Linked DNA regions of Homo sapiens: region 2 is linked to region 1. Evidence: fine-mapped expression QTL. A gene starts in region 1. The other region holds a variant in brackets. All regions are shown on one strand. Distances are from middle to middle.

Region 1 (2,916 bases):
CTGACCTGGATTCTATCGCTATCCTAATAACTGTGGTTCAGAAAATTGTCTCACAGGCAGACAGTTTCCTAATCACGTTTTACTCAATTATTTTATTTCTCAATATGATAGGCTGTGAAGTAGTCCACTGGAAAAGGCATCATGCTGAGAGTAAGAAAAGCTTATTTGTTCACTGCTCTATCTCCAGCACCTAGAACAATGCCTGACCCAGAACAGGTGCATAGTATTTGCTGAGTGAATTCTAATCCTACTTCTGGGTAAAATTAAGTAAATTAATTAGTTCTTGAGGGACTCTGTCTAGATGACCCCTAAACTTCCATGGTAAGGTTTTGTGGTTTTTATCTTGGCTTTTCTAAATGCTCTAAAAATAGTAGTGGATGGTAACAATGCAGTGTTCAGTAAAATCAATTGGTGGAGATTGTAGATAGATGGCTCATAAGACATCAGTATTACAAATCCTATGTGTGTGCGCGTGTGGTCATACAAGGCAAAGTTAAAGTCTTTTTTTTATGACGATGATAAATTAGTCTTGTTTGGGCGACTGAACTCAAGAGGTGGTTCAAATAAATGTCATATTTTTCATTGTATCTTCAGTGCCTAGTACAGTTACTGGCTCATAGTAGGTATTCAATAAATAGTGGTTGAATTAATTGCCTTCCTTAACGTTCCGTTTAAATGCTAGACGCAGCTAGGTCTTTACCCCTCCTTAGAAAGAGATGGAGCTGTAACCAGAAATCCCTTAAAAGGTAAGGACCAGTAATCAGGCTGAGCTAAGCTCATGGGTAGTACGAGACAGGCTTAAAGCACTGAAGGAAGAAAGAAGAGAACCCAAGCGTGAGAGAAAGCAAAACAAAACAAGTAAAGAGAGGAAGAAAAACATTTCTAAAGTGGGGGTTGGCAGGAAGCCACAGCAATTACAGCAGGTCAACCCTTGTCAATAGGTGGTCACCTCAAGAACTTACCATTAAAACCCTCGGCCACACAGACCCCACTTTTAAAAGGTTATTAATTCTGACATGCCCAAGTTCATCTGAGTTCCTTAGAAAGATCAACCAGCAGCACCTACTTCACGACCTATCCTCCATTCCATTCAAATAACGCGGCCAATAGGAAAATCCTCCGCCCTGAGCCAACGACTCGGCGTAGCTGAGACAGCACGGGAGGCAGATCTGCCCTGTAGAGCCTTGCGGTTCCACTGCTGGCCTCCGGATTCCCGGGAGCCCCCAGCCCGACAGGACAACCTTCCTTCCCCGCTTCCTCCTTTCCAGGTCTGTCCCAGCCCCCGCTGCCTGGGCCACACCCGCTTCCCTCTGGTGGCCCAGCCACCACCGCCGCAGTTCGCGGGAGCGCTCTTCCTGGGGCGGGCACAGGCCCAGGGCGCATGCGCACTGGTCGAAGGGCGCCTCCCAGTCCGGATCTCGCGAAGTTACGTTAGATTGGCCGCCGGTGACGGGTGGCCGTGCTGGGGGCGGGAGGGCTTCTGTGGTAGGAAGGGAGGTCCGCTCGGCCGGGTGCGCCGCCCCAGTGCTCTGTGGGATACTGGAAGTCTCGAGCGTCGGCTCCGGGTTCCCAGCCCTCCTCTGGCCCGCACTCATAGAAACATTCACACACCCCCTGCCTCCCCTCTCTTCCCTCTCCGCCTCCCCCTTCCCCCCCTCGCGATAAGAAGACCCGGCGGCAGGAGAGGGGATGAAGATGGCGGACGCGAAGCAGAAGCGGAACGAGCAGCTGAAACGCTGGATCGGCTCCGAGACGGACCTCGAGCCTCCGGTGGTGAAGCGCCAGAAGACCAAGGTGAAGTTCGACGATGGCGCCGTCTTCCTGGCTGCTTGCTCCAGCGGCGACACGGACGAGGTCCTCAAGCTGCTGCACCGCGGCGCCGACATCAATTACGCCAATGTGGACGGACTCACTGCCCTGCACCAGGTCTGTGCGCCCCGCCGCCGGCTCTCCTGACCGTGAGGGTTCTCGTCGGCCTCCTGCTCGGGCCTGCCCTCAGTTCTCCACCTCTTGAGGCTGGGGGCGGCGGGAGACTCCCTGCTGCGGGGTGAGGGGGCGGTTTCCCCAGAGGGCGGGAGGGAGAGCTGGTGGAAGGGAGGGCGCTGGGCTTGAGGCCCCCCTTCAGAACAGTTGCTGGTGGAGTTGGGAACCGGGTGATTTCCGGGGCATAGGGGAAAAGGAACTGTGGTCGTTTGGGGCCCCAGGGCCATTCGTGGATAAGTCTGGGATTTGGGGTCGAGACAAGGAGGGGTGTAGTGGGGTTGTGCCTGGGCCCCGGTGTCAGTGGTATATTCGGAGGGGTGGATGCTGAAGGAAGAAAACTAACAAGGGGCATTACGGACGGTTAGGCAGATGAACATCTTTGACTTGTAGGTGGGCATTGGATTTGTTGCACTTTTTAGGACTTGATTACAAATGATGATAATAATAGTAATCTAGAGCCCTAAGCCGAGTGCCCTGAACGAACGATTTCCTGTTTTCTCATTTATTACTCTTGGTCACTGGGGAGGGGAAAACAGGGTGTAATTAGCTGATCTGCACCGGCTGAAAGGAAGGGGATGGAAGTGGGTAGAGTAAGGAAGCCCTCTAAAGGGCTTGCCCACCTCCGGACCGGAACGTGTTGAGTCTGATACTCGAAGTTTGCCGCAGTGTCAGAGATCCTTGAGCCCCAGGTCCTCGGGTGTGCACTGGTGTTAGAAAGAGAAGAATAAATAGGGGACACTCTTTTCAAAGCCGGTTACCAAGCTCTGGTTTTTCTTTTGGGGTTGGGAAAAAAGAAAGCTGGTCACAAACTTTTCTCAAAATGGATGCTTTGTGCATATTAAAGTTTTATAGTAGTCTGATTGGGATCTCTCAATGTTAGCCAAATAAGGAGAAACTATTGGCAATCCAGAGATAATGTTGCCTTGCCTTTAA
Region 2 (2,916 bases), 37 kb before region 1:
AAATGATGATTTTTCTAATTCTATTATTTCTTCAATATTAAAAAGCTGACATTCTTTTGTAAAAAAAAAAGAGGTTTCACATATTAACTGGTTTCAACAGTTCTTTAAAAAAATGACATGGTAAATAATTTCTTACCTAATTCCAGAATAAGATGCTGATATAAATGTCTCCTCCACTTGTAGCAAATGAGTTTCTCTCTCTCTCTCTCTCCCCCGCCCCGTCTCTCTCTCCCTCCCTCCCTCTCTTTCCCTCTCTCTTTCTCTCTCTCTCTCCTCAGAACTCATGGGTTTTTATTTATTCAATGTTTTATAATCATTTAGTTATTCTTTACAGATGCTTAATTTGTTCCAAATTTGGTCAATGGAAGCTGCTTCCAGCTAGTTCCTTTGTTTGAAGACTTCCTTGCTTTCTGGCCCATGGCACTGCAGGCTCTATTTTTACCTAACTGCCTCAGACTTTGAATTAGCCATTTCTTTAAGGGAACCTAGTTCCTTCAGAGATATTTCCAATTCAAACTCAACATTATATGATTTTTTTGTAAGTTATTTGATTTCATACTTACGTTATCCTTTTCTTACACTGAAAATCTTGTCTCCTTAAATATTTATGTATTTTCCCCAAAAATATGCAATAATGGTTTAAAAATTATAATAGCAATATTATACTAACAATAAAAATCAGAGAGATGCTTAAGGTTTTTCTTCTTTGTTTCTTTTTTTGTTTGTTTTGAGACAGAGTTTCACCTTGTTACCCAGGCTGGAGTGCAACAGCGTGATCTCGGCTCACCGCCACCTCCAACTCCCAGGTTCAAGCGATTCTCCTGCCTCTGTCCCCTGAGTAGCTGGGATTACAGGCATGCACCACCACGCCCGGCTAATTTTGTATTTTTAGTAGAGATGGGGTTTCTCCATGCTGGTCAGGCTGGTCTCAAACCCCCAACCTCAGGTGATCCACTCGCCTCGGCCTCCCAAAGTGCTGGGATTACAGGCGTGAGCCTCCATGCCCGGCCTTTTCTTTGTTTCTTAAGTTTTTTTACTCTTTAGATTATATTTCATTATATCTCAATAGGATGCACAGAGTATTACATTCACTGGAAATATATTTTTTTCTCTCTGTGTGGTTATGTTTGCAATTTGACATATAGCAAGACTTATTTGTTTATCTTTTCAGTTTTAGAGATTCTTGGTTTGAAATTAATCTTGTGTTATTTAATATGTAAAATATTTACATGATTCAAAACCAAAACTACATAAAAAGGCATACATTGATTACTTTTTTTTTTTTTTTTTTGGAGACAGAGTCTCCCTCTGTCACCCAGGCTGGAGTGTAGTGGCATGATCTCGACTTACTGCAACTTCTACCTTCTGGGTTCAAGCGATTCTCCTGCCTCGACCTGCAGAGTAGATGGGACTACAGGAGCCCACCACTACACTCAGCTGATTTTTTATATTTTAGTAGAGACAGGGTTTCACCATGTTGCCCAGGGTGGTCTCAAACTCTTGAGCTTAGGCAATCTGCCCACCTCGGCCTCCCAAAGTGCTGGGATTACAAGCCTGAGCCACTGTGCCCAGCCTGATTTCTAAA[T/C]CTCACATAATTCCCTTTCCCCTTCACCCCATTTCAAAAATCACCCCATGGATAACCTTTTCTTTTTTTAGTTCCTTGTTATACTTCCTGTGTTTCTTTGTGCAAAAGTAAACAGAACATATGCACCTTGATTTTTTTTTACTGAGCCATATATCATGGAGATCTTCCTCATTTTTTAATAACTGCATAATAATTTAAAATTCGGCAATATCATAGTTTATTCAACCAGTCCCCAGAGCTGATTCCTAGAAGTAGGATTGCTGGATCAAAGGATAAATAAAATTATAATTTTTCTGAATAAGGTTCTGTATTTTTTTAGGTTTTCCAGAAAATTCCAATAATCAGCCATAGTTGGTAACCAATAACCCATATTTTGATAGCCATAGTATATTGGTTTAATCAAAGCAGCAAGTTTTAATTGAGCCACTACCTTGAGCTGGGCATTATGGGAGAATTTAAAAAACTATATTCTCCTCCTGCCCTCAATGAGTTACTAAAAGGAGTTGTCCTGCCCTAATCTCCTGAAGGAGGCAAGTTTAATCAGCAAAGGAAAGAAATAGATTGTATTTAAATGTTGCTGTTTCTTTTACTACCAGAGTTTTCATAATAGGAACTGGATATGCAGTACTTGATAGATTTTACACTTTACATCACTCAGAATGCTAAGGGTTATAATGCAATTATGATCTTGAGCCAATGATCATTTTCTCTTACGGAGAAAAAGTTGTTTTCTACAGCAAAAAAATTGTTTTCTATAGCAAAGATTTTTAACTTGGACATGACCCATTAGTGGGCTGTGAAATCAACTTAGCATGTTGTAAACAACATGAAATAGAATAGAATAAAAAGTATCAGAGTGCACCATAGGTAGTAAAGGCTTGTATTATTTCATGCAAATATTTATATCTATAAACACACATACATTTGTAAGAATACTAAATGTGACATAAAATTAATTTCTTAAGGTAAACTGATCAAAAAGATTGAGAAACACTACTTCATAGGAAAGGAACAATTGTTTTCTTTGAGTAACAGCTACTCATTTTTTACATTTAACATATTAGTCGTATACTGCTACAATTTAGTCCCTTGGTCTAGACGTATGCTTATTTGGGTCTGGTATTATGTAATAAGTTTTACTCAATGACTTTTTTGTTTTGATTTTTAAAATTATTCTTTTTAGCTTATAAAATACAATAAAATAAAATACATTTAAAGCAGAAACGACAAGCTGTTGCCCCTCATTTATTCTATCTATGTAGTCTGACAGGCACTTGGTTTTATCACACCTGACTAGCCTCCACTTTAAAATGGAGATAATAGCTGAACTC

Evidence for each region. PIP is the estimated chance that this variant, and not a neighbour inherited with it, causes the effect.
Region 2: its variant is the best candidate, but not a certain one, in a credible set for the expression of PPP1R12A in whole blood (TOPMed, PIP 0.51).

The regions. Positions count from the first base shown.
Region 1 is chr12:79,933,705-79,936,620 of GRCh38, reverse strand. PPP1R12A (protein phosphatase 1 regulatory subunit 12A) reads left to right here and starts at 1,524. Exons shown (of 25, transcript NM_002480.3): 1 at 1,524-1,926. The coding sequence starts at 1,690. It overlaps PPP1R12A-AS1 (PPP1R12A antisense RNA 1), which reads right to left and starts at 1,340. Exons shown (of 2, transcript NR_146535.1): 1 at 1,067-1,340. RefSeq lists enhancers at 1,009-1,574, 1,298-1,592, 1,639-1,938, 1,575-2,138, 2,279-2,338 and 1 more and a silencer at 2,019-2,108.
Region 2 is chr12:79,970,513-79,973,428 of GRCh38, reverse strand. No RefSeq gene overlaps it. Among named protein-coding and RNA genes, the nearest start is that of PPP1R12A-AS1, 37 kb to the right of the region's middle. The variant T/C (reference allele first, on the strand shown) is at 1,586.